Linked DNA regions of Homo sapiens: region 1 is reported to be linked to region 2. Evidence: microRNA targets listed by miRTarBase, many of them from high-throughput screens and not tested one by one. Region 2 holds a microRNA gene; the other region holds the end of a gene's coding sequence.

What was found. The annotated mature microRNA hsa-miR-509-3-5p reads UACUGCAGACGUGGCAAUCAUG and lies in region 2 at 2,089-2,110, shown strand. An mRNA with a match to its seed (bases 2 to 7 or 8) in the 3' UTR can be bound and repressed. Matches are read on the target gene's strand: a 7mer-m8 pairs with bases 2 to 8, a 7mer-A1 pairs with bases 2 to 7 and ends in A, and an 8mer does both.
Region 1: miRTarBase lists TMPPE as a target of hsa-miR-509-3-5p. The part of its 3' UTR that is shown has no 7-base or 8-base seed match.

The regions. Positions count from the first base shown.
Region 1 is chr3:33,086,839-33,093,935 of GRCh38, reverse strand. TMPPE (transmembrane protein with metallophosphoesterase domain) reads left to right here. Exons shown (of 2, transcript NM_001039770.3): 2 at 1-3,514. The coding sequence ends at 1,102. All of the region lies in intron 1 of GLB1 (galactosidase beta 1), which reads left to right. Among named protein-coding and RNA genes, the nearest start is that of GLB1, 6.8 kb to the left of the region's middle.
Region 2 is chrX:147,254,688-147,261,805 of GRCh38, reverse strand. It overlaps MIR509-3 (microRNA 509-3), which reads left to right and starts at 2,080; the gene lies at 2,080-2,154. MIR509-2 (microRNA 509-2) reads left to right here and starts at 2,956; the gene lies at 2,956-3,046. MIR509-1 (microRNA 509-1) reads left to right here and starts at 1,181; the gene lies at 1,181-1,274. The region is part of intron 2 of LOC105373347 (periphilin-1); the gene reads right to left.

The DNA.
Region 1 (7,097 bases), not on the chromosome of region 2:
GGTGGTTCTGGCATTTCTGGCCCTGGCCCATTCCAGTTTCTTTACCATGTTCTTTTTAGTGGCCGAAGAGCCCTATCTCTTTTCCTTGGCGGCCTACTCCTGCCTGGGTGCTTACATCATCATGCTCTTCTTCCTCTTCATCCTCAGCGGCATGGAGCAGGCCTACCAGCTCTTGGCCTGGCGCAGTGGTAGGGTCGTGGGCAGCCTTGAGAAGACAAGGAAGCTCGTGCTCAGGCCTGCCCTGGCAGTGGGAGTGACTGCTGTGCTCAGCGTGGCCGGGATTCTGAATGCCGCGCAGCCCCCGGCTGTGAAAACTGTGGAGGTGCCCATCCATCAGCTGCCTGCCTCAATGAACAACCTCAAGATCGTGCTCCTCTCAGACATTCACTTGGGCCCCACAGTGGGCAGGACCAAGATGGAAATGTTTGTGAGGATGGTGAATGTGCTGGAACCAGACATCACGGTGATTGTGGGTGACCTCTCCGACTCAGAAGCCTCGGTCCTGCGGACGGCTGTCGCTCCTCTGGGCCAGCTTCATTCACATCTCGGTGCCTACTTCGTCACAGGCAATCATGAGTACTACACGTCAGATGTCAGCAACTGGTTTGCACTTCTGGAATCCCTGCATGTCCAGCCTCTTCATAATGAGAACGTGAAGATTTCCGCCACACGGGCCCAACGTGGTGGTGGTGGCAGTGGCAGTGGGAGTGAGGATGAGGACTGGATCTGCTTGGCTGGGGTGGACGATATTGAAGCAGACATCCTGCACTACTCTGGCCATGGCATGGATCTTGACAAGGCCCTGGAGGGCTGCAGCCCAGACCACACAATCATCTTGCTAGCTCACCAGCCCCTGGCTGCCAAGAGAGCTCTCCAGGCTCGGCCAGATATTAACCTGATCCTTTCTGGGCACACACATGCTGGGCAGATCTTCCCCTTGAACGTAGCAGCCTATCTCCTGAATCCCTTCTTTGCTGGTCTCTACCAGGTGGCCCAGGCTACATTCGTGTATGTCAGCCCAGGCACAGCCTACTACGGGATACCCATGAGGCTGGGTAGCAGGGCCGAGATCACAGAGCTCATCCTGCAGCGGTCTCCCTGAACTGGCCCTGCCCTGTGCACCTCTGCCCTGCCCTTGTCCTCGACCCTCCATCCTGCTTCAGAGTGGTTTGCCTGCTTTTCCCCTCCAGCCTTGCCCACTCATCCTTGCCTACACACCCTTGGTCACAAGCCTGACTCAAACAGTGACTTATGGTGGGCCTGCCTGGCATGTTCAGGCTGGTTTAACTATTTCCTTGGCCAGTTGCTTTTTTTGATGCACTTGTGAGATCACTAAGGTCACATATATTAGCACTCCCCTCTATTTTCCAGATGATGTGGAATGGGGACCTTCTCCTGCAGAGCTCCCAGGGATGAACCTCCCCTCGGGGTTGCTAGAAAGGCATACCTCTAGAAGGTGGGGCGGGGAGGAGCAGGAGCATTTTTCTCCTGGTGTTTTAAAATTGTCTTTAGGACTTAAGTGGTTTCCAGAATCATTGATCCAGAGCCTTTCTGGGGAAGGGGTAGTGTTGCCAGGTAATTTGGGAGAACAGGCAAGATGGAAGGGCCCTCTGGCTGCTAGAGAAGAATATTTTCTTTTCCTCTGATTCTATCAGGATCACCTCTATTGAGGGCATCAGCAAAATCTACTGGAATGCAAAGCTCCTCCTGTTCCAGGCCTTGAGGGATGCTATTTAACTGTCTGTGCTCCTGGGCCTTTGGGGGCAAGGTCAGGGGAGAAGAACGGTGGGCGCCATGGTCGGTGATGGTGAGAACATGGCTGCTTAGGAATTCAGAGGGCTTTGCCTCCCTTGTCTCATTTTATACAACCCTTCGGGGAGCTCACTGGGGACAGGCTGCTTTTCCCTATTTGGAGATAAGGAAACCAAGGCAAAGAGAGATAGGGCACAGGCAGTATGACAAGATATGTAGGAGATTTGGGGCTAGAAACCAGGTCTTGTACCTCCCAGTAAAAGCGGTGCTTTTGCCCTTTTGCCAGAAGCAATAGATCCTTTGATCCTGAGATGGAGATAAGCACCCGTGTTAGAAAAGGCCTCACTGAGAAGACAGGGCTGGGCTGGTTTCCTGCTGGGTGATTTAGGCTTGTGATGGAAAGTCTTCCTCCAATGGGGAGTGAAGACACTCGCTCTGACTGGAGAGGCTAACCCTGCTGCTCACTCATAGGGCAGCGTTGGGTGGGTGACTTTCCCTCACTCAGCCTTGGTTTCCATCAACCCTAAAATGGGGATAATTATCGTATCTACCTCAAGATTGTTTTGTCAGGAGGGATCCATCAAGCCTTGTGCATGAGTTCCACATGGCACAGCGTGCACAGTAAACACTCAATGTTAATTTTTCAACGTTCCAGTGGAGCTTGCTAAGGAACTCTGTTGGGCACAGGTGCCCAGAGGATTCATGGAGCAGCCAGTCCTGGGGAATGTGAGTGGGTAGCGAGCTGCCTGCTGCTGGGGCAGGTGATGTGTCAAAGCAGCAACTGCTAGGGGTTTGCCTTCCTTCCCTCATGTGCATTCTGGCAGGCAAAGGGGGTTTCTTCCTTTCCTCCTTGTCCTCCTGGTGTATAGTGGGGTTCTGGGGGATCTGGAGACCACCCTTTTTGTTCCCAGGCAGCCACGGTATTGACAGTGGGCCATACCATGCAGTTTAAAATGTATCTTTGAGTTGAAATTTTGGTGGTTTCCTTATTCTTTTTTCTCTCTTCACTGTCCTTCCAAACTCACTTTTCTTGTGTCCCGACCGCATTTTGTGAATCATCCTTACTCCCTTTAAGTTCTCGCTTTGGATTTCACCAGGTGGGCTAGATGGTGCCATTTCACTTCCACTGTTTGATGCGGCTGGTAATGTTTGACTCACCTGTTACGTGTTATTTCACTGGTTTCTTGATTTTACATCTTTCTCATCAGTGACCTGGGCTTGATGAAATTAGCTTTCATTAAGTCCTATTTTTTTTTTAATTTTGCATCCTTACCTCTTTTCTTTCTCTTGAATGCCATCATTGTGTGGTCTTATGTACCCTTCATCCACTCTGAAGTCCTTGCTTGACTGATTGCTTTCTATTAGCAGAAAGAAAACAGGTCCATCCTATGTATCTGAGAAACAACATCAACACCCTCTCGTATGTGGTTTGTATTCCCTGACGCGGCGGACATTTTTGCAGCAGAAATTTCTCCATCACTGTCCAGATTCTGGCCCTGGTGGGCAGGTCTCCATGACACCTTTAGTCCCTTTGTTCAACATTCTTAAACCATGGACCTTTTTGTTTGTTTGTGGCCGGGGGAGGTGGTGAGAAACGTTACTTGAAGCTTGATCATTCTTTCAATTTCATTTGTTTCTTTATTTTTAATCTGTTAGATGCAAATTGAAATGCAATGCTTTTTGAAAATCAGCAATAGTGTCTGTAGTATATGATGCTGTCACAAAATCTCAATAAATTGATCCTGCTGCCATTCCTTCCAAATACCCATCCATGCTTTTCTTCCCCTCGTGTTTTGTTTGGTTTGTTTTAAACTTTTCGTACATGTACCTCTCTCCCAGCTTTAACAAGCATGACGAGACCACTCTGCCATCCTTTCTCAGCTACCCCTGCCCCACCTGTACTCTTTATTTTTTGGCTGGAGTATATTAAGGTAAATCATAGAAAACATAATGTTACCCCAAAATTACTTCAGTATGAATCCTTTTTCAAAAAGCATAGCTATAGTGTCATTATCATATCCAATGAAATTAACAGTGATTCTTGAATATCATCTAATAGCTAGTTAGGAGATTTGGGGCTAGTAGCCAGATTTTTGACCTCTTTAAAGAAGTGTTCTTTCCACTCTCTGAGTATTAAGTAGCTGTATCTGTCACAAATGAGTACAGAATTCAAATGCAGTTAACTGTGTGAAGAGTTAGTGTTTAGTTTTTCCTGATTATCTCAACTATATTTTTTATTGTGGCAAAAAAATTACTATCTTAACCATTTTTTTTGTTCTTTTTGTTGTTGTTGATCTTAACCATTTTTAAGTGAATAGTTCAACAGTGTTAGGTATATTCACATTGTTGTGAAATTGATCTAATTGATCTGTAGAACTTTTTCATCTTGCAAATCTATATACCCATTGAGCAACAAGGCTCCATTTCCCCCTTCCTCCAGCCCCTGGTGACCACAATTCTACTTTCTGTTTCTATGAATTTGACTGCTTTAGATACCTCGTATAAGTGAAATCATGCAGTTTTTGTCTTTTTGTGGCGGGCTTATTTCAGTTAGTATAATGACCTTAAGGTTGTGGCACGTGACTGGATTTCTGTCCTTTTTAAGGCTGGACTACAGTAATACTCTTGTATTTTCATGCCACATTTTGTTTATCCATGTTGAGCATGTTTTCATGGGCTTGTTGGCCACCTGTATACCTTCTTTGGAGAAATGTCTATTCAAGTCCTTTGCCTATCTTTAAATCAGGTTATTTAATTTATTGTTGTGGAGATGTAGGAGTTCTTTATATATTCTGGACATTAACCCCTTATCAGATACGTAATTTGCAGATATTTTCTTCAGTTCTGTACATTGCCTTTTCACTGATTGTGACCTTTGATGCACAGAGTTTTAAAGTTTAATGCAGGCCCATTTCTCTATTTTTGCTTTTATTTTGGCATCATATCCAAGAAATCATTGCCAAGTTCAATATCACGTAGCTTTTTTCCCCATGTTTTCTTCTAGGAGTGTTATAGTTTTGGGTCTTACGTTTAGGTCTTTAACCCATATTGAATTAATTTTTGTGTATGGTATAAGATAAGGGTCCAACTTCATTCTCTTGCCTGTGAATATCCAGTTTTCCCAGCACTGTTTTCTGAAGAAATTGTCCTTTTCTAACATCAAGAGATCTTGGCATCTTTGTTGAAAATCATTTGACCATATACACAAGAGTTTGTTTCTTGGTGTTCTATCCTCTCATTGCTCTATGTCTGTCTTTATGTCATTACCATGCTATTCTGATTACCACAGCTTTGCAATATGTTTTGAAATCAGGAGGTATGAGTCTTTCAACTTTGCTCTTCTTTTTCAAGACTTTAGTCTATTTGGTGTCTGTTGAGATTCCATATGAATTTTAGGATAAATTTTTCTATTTCTGCAAGAAATGCTATTGGGATTTTTATAGGGATTGTGTTGAATCTGTGAATCACTTTGGGTAGTATGAACATCTTAACAATATGAACCTTCCACTCCATGAACATAGGATGTTTTTTCCATTTGTTTGTGTCTTCTTTAATTTCTTTTTAACAGTGTTTTGTAGTTTTCAGTGTAGTCTTTCACCTTAGTTAGGCCTATTTCTAAGTATTTTATTCTTTTTGATGCTTTTATATATGGAATTTTTTGAAATTCCATTTAGGATTGTTCATTTTTAGTGTATAGAGAAGCAACTGATTTTGGTATGTTGCTTTTTGTATCCTGCAACTTTGCTGAATTCATTTATTAGTTCTAACAGTTTGTGTGTGTGTGTGTGTGTGTGTGTGTGTGTGTGTGTGTGTGTAGTCTTTAGGGTTTCCTACATCTAAGATTATATCATCTGTGAATCGATCATTTTACTTCTCCTTTCTAATTTGAATGCCTTTTATTTCTTTCTTGCCTAGTTGCTCTGACTAGGACTTCCAAAACTATGTTGAGTAGAAGTGGCAAAAACAGACATCTTGCCTTTTTCCTGATCTTAGAGGAAAAGCTTGCAGTCTTTCACTATTGAATATGATGTTAGCTATGGGCTCTTCACATGTGGGCTTTATGATGTGGAGGTAGTTTTCTTCTATTTTGCATTTGTTGAGTTGTTGGTTTTTTTAATCATGAAAGGGTGTTGAATCTTGTCATGCTTTCTCTGCCTCAATTTAGATTATCATGTGGTTTTTGCCCTTCAATCTGTTAATTTGGTGTATTATATTGATTGATTTTTATATGTTAAACCATTCTTGCATTTTAGGAATAAATCCCACTTGATCATAGTATATAACCCTTTTAATGTACTGTTGAATTCAGTTTGCTAGTATTTTGTTGAGGATTTTTGCATCAATATTCACCAGGAATATTATTGTTCTGTAGTTTTCTTGTAGTGTATTTGTCTGGCTTTGGTATTAGGATAATATTGGTCTCATAGAATAAATTTAGAAATGTTCCTCCTCTTCAACTTTTGTAATAGTTTCAGGAGGATTGGTATTAATTCTTCTTTAAATGTTTGGTAGAATTCTCCAGTGAAGCCATCTGGTTCTAGGTTTTTCTTTGAGTGTGTGTGTGTGTGTGTGTGTGTGTGTGTGTGTGTGTGTGTGTGTGTGTGCGCGCATGCTGAGACATGGTCTTGCTCTGTCGCCGGGGCTGGAGTGCAGAGGCATGATCTTGGGTCACTGCAACCTCCACCTCCCAGGTTCAAGCGATTCTCCTTCCTCAGCCTCCCAAGTAGCCAGGACCACAGGCACGCGCCACCACACCCGGCTAATTTTTGTATTTTTAGTAGAGACGGGGTTTCACCATGTTGGCCAGGCTGGTCTCAAACTCTTGACCTCAAGTGATCTGGCCGCTTCCCCCTCCCAAAGTGCTGGGATTACAGGCGGGAGCCACCGTACCCGGCCTCTTTGAGGTTTTTGATGACTGATTCAATCTTTTTAATAGCTATTGGTCTGTATAGATTTTCTGTTTCTTCATGATTCGGTCTTGGTGGGCTGGGTGTGTCTAGAAATTTATCCATATCTTCTAGGTTATCCAATTTGTTGGCATACAGTTGTTCATGCTATTCTCTTACAATTCTTTATTTCTGTGTCATCAGTTATAATGTCCCCTCTTCATTTCTGATTTATTTATATCTTCTTTTTTTTAAATCTAGTTAAGTTTCTCAATTTTGTTGATTTTTTTTTCAAAAACCAACTGTTTTTTTTTCCTACTATCTTTCTATTCTCTTTTGTTTATTTCTACTCTAATATTTTATTTCCTTTTGCTAGCTTTGGGTTTATTTTTTTCTTCTTATGGAATTGTCTTTTTATAGTTATTTTGTTTGAAACAGGATCTAAAAATAGGTCTATAT
Region 2 (7,118 bases):
CTCCCTTATAAAATGGAATGCCTTTAACTGCATGCAAGTTACCTCTTGAATGCTTTGCTGCTTAGAAATTTCTTCTGCCAGGTACCCTAAATCATCTCTCTCAAGTTCAAAGTTCCACAGATCTCTAGGGCAGGGGCAAGATGCTGCCAGTCTCTTTGCTAAAACATAAAGAGTCACCTTTGCTGCAGTTTCTAACAAGTTCCTCATCTCCATCTGAGACTACCTTAACCTGGATTTCATTGTCCATATCATTATCAGCATTTTGGGCAAAGCCATTCAACAAGTCAAGTCTCTAGGGAGTTCCAAACTTTCCTACATTTTCCTGTCTTCTTCTGAGCTCTCCAAAGTGTTTCATCCCGTGCCTGTTACCCAGTTCGAAAGTCGCTTCCATATTTTCAGGTATCTTTTCAGCAGTGTCCCACTCTACTGGTACCAATTTACTGTATTAGCCCATTTTCACATTGCTGATAAAGACGTACCCAAGACTGGGCAATTTACAAAGGAAAGAGGTTTAATGGAGAATTCATAGTTCCATGTGGCTGGGGAAGCCTCACAATCATGTTAGAAGGCAAGGAGGAGCATGTCACATCTTACATGGATGGCGACAGGCAAAGATAGAGAGCTTGTGCAGGAAAACTCCCATATTTAAAACCATCAGATCTCATGAGACTTAGTCACTATTATGAGAACAGCAGAGGAAAGACCTGCCCCCATGATTCAATCATCTTCCACTGGGTCCCTCCCACAGCATATGGGAATCATGGGAGCTACAAGATGAAATTTAGGTGGGGACACAGAGCCAAACCTTATCATATGAGATTGATGAGATGGAGGATTATTTACTACTTAATTAATGGATATGGAGAATGCAAACTGGTAGTTAATGCTTTGCAAGTAGCAATGTGAAAAGGAACAGGATAAGACATGCAAGGATATTTCTTCTGTGAGTAACAGAACCTAACAGAAATGTTTAATATTTCTCAGTTCTGAAAACTGTCACGTGAAAGCTGCAACATGGGAGTGGACAGCACTCAAAGCAGGAAACATAAGGAAAGATAGTGGATTGGATTCTGCAGAAGTCCTTTGTCCAAATTCCAATGGCCACCCACAACTTGTAAATATTGAATGGCTGTTTTAAAGGTGAATGGGTGGGTATTAAGGCAAGGCTGCCATCCTCAGACATGCTGTGTGTGGTACCCTACTGCAGACAGTGGCAATCATGTATAATTAAAAATGATTGGTACGTCTGTGGGTAGAGTACTGCATGACACATGCAACATACATGATGACACTGTGTGTGTGTTGGAGGCATTTAGTTGCATGCAGAGGGATGCTTTCCTTACAGTGCAGGTATTTTACCCTCACAAACCCTCCACTTCCATGCTGGACTACCTCAGAAAACTCTCTCAGGTGCCTGACCACCAGACACGTGATCTAGGAATTTAAGGTCCTTGCAACAAGCCTCCCATTGAGTTCTTCTGAGATTGACTTCCATTTCTATGATGTTGCCTGATTGAACCAAGGTTTATCTTGCCATTTTACAGTTTCTTTCTGCCTTAAGAGTATTATTCATTTTGCAGAAACTATTTCCTTCTCCAACATCCAAATCTATTAACGGTTAGCTTCCTTTCTAATTTTCAAGTCTTCTTAAGCCTTCCAAAATTCCCTCCTGCTTCTTAAACACTTAACTTTCTGAAAATCAAAATATTTTCTGTCTCAGATATACAAAGTCCTCTTTCTTCATGTGCTAATAAAGTACATATTCGTTCTTTTGTAAATATATTTTAATCTATTATAAGGAACAGGATAAGACATGCAAGGATATTTCTTCTGTGAGTAACAGGACCTAGCAGAAATGTTTAATATTTCTCAGTTCTGAAAACTGTCATGTGAAAGCTGCAACATGGGAGTGGACAGCACTCAAAGCAGGAAACATAAGGAAAGATAGTGGATTGGATTCTACAGAAGTCCTTTGTCCAAATTCCAATGGTCACTCACAGGTTGTAAATATTGAATGGTTGTTTCAAAGGTGAATGGGTGGGTATTAAGGCAAGGCTGCCATCCTCAGACATGCTGTGTGTGGTACCCTACTGCAGACGTGGCAATCATGTATAATTAAAAATGATTGGTACGTCTGTGGGTAGAGTACTGCATGACACGTGCAACATACATGATGACACTGTGTGTGTGTTGGAGGCATTTAGTTGCATGCAGAGGGATGCTTTCCCTATAGTGCAGGTATTTTACCCTCACAAACCCTCCACTTCCATGCTGGACTACCTCAAAAAACTCTCTTAGGTGCCTAATCAGACACATGGTCTAGGAATTTAAGGTCCTTGCAACAAGCCTCCCATTGAGTTTTTCTGAGATTGATTTCCATTTCTATGATGCTGCCTGATTGAATCAAGGTTTATTGTGCCATTATACAGTTTCTTTACGCCTTAAGAGTATTATTCATTTTGCAGAAACTGTTTCCTGCTCCAACATCCAAATCTATTAATGGTTAGCTTCCTTTCTCATTTTCAAGTCTTCTTAAGCCTTCCAAAATTCTCTCCTGCTTCTTAAACACTTAACTTTTCTGAAAATCAAAATATTTTCTATCTCAGATATACAAAGTCCTCTTTCTTCATGTGCTAATAAAGTACATATTCGTTCTTTTGTAAATACATTTTAATCTATTATAAGGAACAGGATAAGACATGCAAGGATATTTCTTCTGTGAGTAACAGAACCTAACAGAAATGTTTAATATTTCTCAGTTCTGAAAACTGTCATGTGAAAGATGCAACGTGGGAGTGGACAGGACTCAAAGCGGGAAATATAAGGAAAGATAGTGGATTGAATTCTGCAGAAGTCCTTCGTCCAAATTCCAATGGCCACGCACAGCTTGTAAATATTGAATGGTTGTTTTAAAGGTGAATGGGTGGGTATTAAGGCAAGGCTGCCATCCTCAGACATGCTGTGTGTGGTACCCTACTGCAGACAGTGGCAATCATGTATAATTAAAAATGATTGGTACGTCTGTGGGTAGAGTACTGCATGACACGTGCAACATACATGATGACACTGTGTGTGTGTTGGAGGCATTTAGTTGCATGCAGAGGGATGCTTTCCTTACAGTGCAGGTATTTTACCCTCACAAACCCTCCACTTCCATGCTGGACTACCTCAGAAAACTCTCTCAGGTGCCTGACCACCAGACACGTGATCTAGGAATTTAAGGTCCTTGCAACAAGCCTCCCATTGAGTTCTTCTGAGATTGATTTCCATTTCTATGATGTTGCCTGATTGAACCAAGGTTTATCTTGCCATTTTACAGTTTCTTTCTGCCTTAAGAGTATTATTCTTTTTGCAGAAACTATTGCCTACTCCAACATCCAAATCTGTTAACTGTTAGCTTCCTTTCTCATTTTCAAGTCTTCTTAAGCTTTCCAAAATTCCCTCCTGCTTCTTAAACACTTAACCTTCTGAAAATCAAAATATATTCTATCTCAGATATAAAATGTCCTCTTTCTTCATGTGCTAATAAAGTACATATTCGTTCTTTTGTAAATATATTTTAATCTATTATTAGTAAGTCATATATCAGGAATTGTGAATAATGCTGAGAATTTTTTATTGTTTGATTTTTTTGCATTTACTTAAAAACATTTTTTATCTCTAGGTTTTCATTTACTTCCTTTATGTTGTTTCTTTCTCATTCAGTGATGAGAGAGGGTGTATGGAAGCAGAAAATGGGTAAAGGAGAGAGAATGAGAGTCAGAATTAGAGCAAGAATAATCTGTTTTTTTTTTTTTTTTAATCAAGTAGGGTAGAAGTCACAGGTGGACATCTAGGTTTTATTCCAGTTATTCATGGCTAAAAATAAAGCTACTTTGTATATTTGCATACAGATGTATATATGAACACAAGTTTCATTTTCCTTGTGTAAACTGCTACTAGTAGGATTTGAAGGTCACATGGCAAGTGTAAGTTTACATTTAAAATTAATTAAAAAATAATTTCCAGAATGGTTTTACCATTTTGTGCTGCATTAAGCAATGTATTAGTGATCCAATTACCCAACTTCTTATCAGCATTTTGTATTGAAAAGCCTTTGTTTTGTTTTTATTAGCAATTTTAATATGTGTATAGTTCCCTTGTCAGTTGTGGTTTTAATTTGCATCACCTTACTGACGGAAAATGTTGAGCACCTGTACATGTACTTACTTACCATTCATGTATCTTCCTTGGTGAAGTGCCTTTGGGATTTTTCTCACCTTTACCGAGTTGTTCACTTATCTTTGAGGTTTACTATATACATATAGATAGAGATATATAGGTATACTGCATACAATTTCTTGGCCAGAATTATGATTTACATATATTATCTCTCAATCTGTTTTGTTTTTTTCATTTTCAACAGTATTTTGTGCAGAGCAAATGTTTTCAATTTTGATAAAGTACGACTTAACAGTTTTTCAATGTATGCATTATGCTTTTAATGCTGTATCTAACAACTTTTAGACTTAGATGTGAGATTCATGGTTAACTGTGTTTTTCTTTCAGCATTTTGAATATGTTCTACAACTGATTCCAGCTTCCATGGTTTCTCAAAAGAAGTCAGTGTTAAATCTTGTAAGAATCACTTGTATGAAATATGCTCCCTTTCTCTTGCAGCTATAAAGGTATTCTTTCTTTTACACATTCTCTTTCTCTCTCTCTCTCTCCATTAACAGATTGAATACAATGTCTTTAAGTCTGGATATCTTCATGCTTATCTCACTTTTTTGATGTGTACATTTATGTTTTTTATGAAATTTGAAGTTTTTAGCATTATTTCTTTCAACACTATTTTTTTCTGGTTTTCTCTCTCCTGTCCTAATGCTATTTCCATTAGGCATATTTTGGTATGACTCTGGTGTTTCACCTTTCTGAGGCCATGCTCATGCTATGTTACTGAATGGAAAAGTGTAAAAAAAAAAAAAACTTTAAACTATCTTGTTCCAGGAAAATGCTCAGAAAACTCAGGAACAAAAAGAAATATAAGAACATCCCAAGATACCAAGACCATTTTCTGTCTCGTTGATCACTGCTGGTATGTAAAATGAGCTTTTTCGATTACGGAGTCTGGAAAGAAAAATGAGTTTTTACTCCTTCCATTCCACTACCTACTGAACCTACTGATTATTATCTTGTTATTTACTTAGTTGATCTGGTCTTTTTTTTTTTTTTTTTTTCATTTTTTTTGAGATGGAGTCTTGCTCTGTCACCCAGGCTAGAGTACAGTGGCGCGATCTTGGCTCACTGCAAGCTCCACCTCCTGGGTTCATGCCATTCTCCTGCCTCAGCCTCCCCAGCAGCTGGGACTACAGGTAGCTGCCATCACACTAATTTTTTTTTTTTTTTTTTTTTTTGAGACCGAGTCTCGCTCTGTCACCCAGGCTGGAGTGCAGTGGCACGATCTCGGCTCACTGCAAGCTCCATGTCCTGGGTTGACACCATTCTCCTGCCTCAGCTTCCTGAGTAGCTGGGACTACAGGTGCCCCCCACCACGCCCGGCTCATTTTTTTGTATTTTTAGTAGAGACTGGGTCTCACCGTGTTAGCCAGGATGGTCTCGATCTCCTGACCACGTGATCCGCCCACCTCGGCCTCCCAAAGTGCTGGGATTACAGGCATGAGCCACTTCGCCTGGCCAATCTGGTCTTTTTTATCTGCTCATTCTGTGATTCAGAAATTGAGGAACATAACTCAGATAAAAGGACTCAGATCTTTGGGTGACAAGGCAAGAGTGGTGAGATGGAGTGTATTTACTGCTTAATTATTGGGTCTAAAGAAGACAAATGATTTGTTAATGCTTTATATATAATAATGGATAAAAAAAACCAGGACAAGACACACAGGGGTACGTCTTATATATGCAAGAGAACATAAGAGAAAGGCTTAATGATCCCAGCACTTTGGGAGGCAAAGGCGGGAGATCACTTGAGGTCAGGAGTTGGACACCAGCCTAGCCAACATAGTGAAACCCCGTCTCTACTAAAAATACAAAAATTAGCTGGGTGTGGTGGTGGGCACCTGTAATCCCAGCCACTCGGGAGGCTGAGGCAGGAGAATTGCTTGAACCTGGGAGGCGGAGGTTGCTGTGGGCCAAGATTGCACCACCACATTCCAGCCTGGGCAACAGAGTGAGACTCCGTCTCAAACAACCAAACAAAGAGGCTTATTGCTCCTCAGTTCTGAAAACTACCATGTGAAAACTTCAACACACAAGTGGACAGCACTTCAGGGAAGAATGGATGAGGAAAAAAAACAGTGGAGTGTTCACTGTAGAGGTACTTTGAACAAATACTGGTAGCCACTCACAGCCTGAAAACATTGCGTAGCTTTTTAAAAGGTACATGAATGGGTGTTTAAGCAGGGCTTCCATCCTTAGACATGCTGTCTGCGGGGCCTTACTCGAGAGAGTAGCAATCACATATGGTAATGACATATGATTGAAACCTCTACGAGTGGTGTAACACGTGACATATGCAGCATATGTAATATAACTATGGGTGCACTTGAGGGAAGATTAGTTGCATGCAGAGAGCTGTTTTCCATAGAGTACATCTATGCTGTTCACACACCTCCGCCACCCTGCTGGACTATCTCATGGAATCATCTTATGTAAATTTGCAGAGGTAAGTCCTAGGAACTAAAGGTCCTGGAAAAACGCCTTTTCTTGTTTTTATTTTTTCCTGGGATATCTTTTCCTGGGATTGATACCTATTTTTACAAAGTTGCCTGACAAAAATGAAAACCAGGTTTTCAGTGTGGCTATGTTTTTATTCTCTGCTGCAGAGTATTAAGTTTTTACAGAACCTTTTTCTTTCTTGATGCTTATATCAGTTTACAAGTTATTATTTATTATTCCCTCCTCCTCGTTTTCAAGCCTTCTTTTTAGGCCTTTCCAAATCCCCTCCTACTACTCAGATCCCAACCTGCTGACAACATATTTTCTGTCTCAAATATGAAAGCTCATTTTTTTCTTCATTGGCTGAAGAGGTACTCATTCTTTGAAAAGCATTTGAATCCTTTATAAGCCACCAATTTATAAGAGGTTGTGCAGAGCACACAGAAACTTGTACTCTTTGA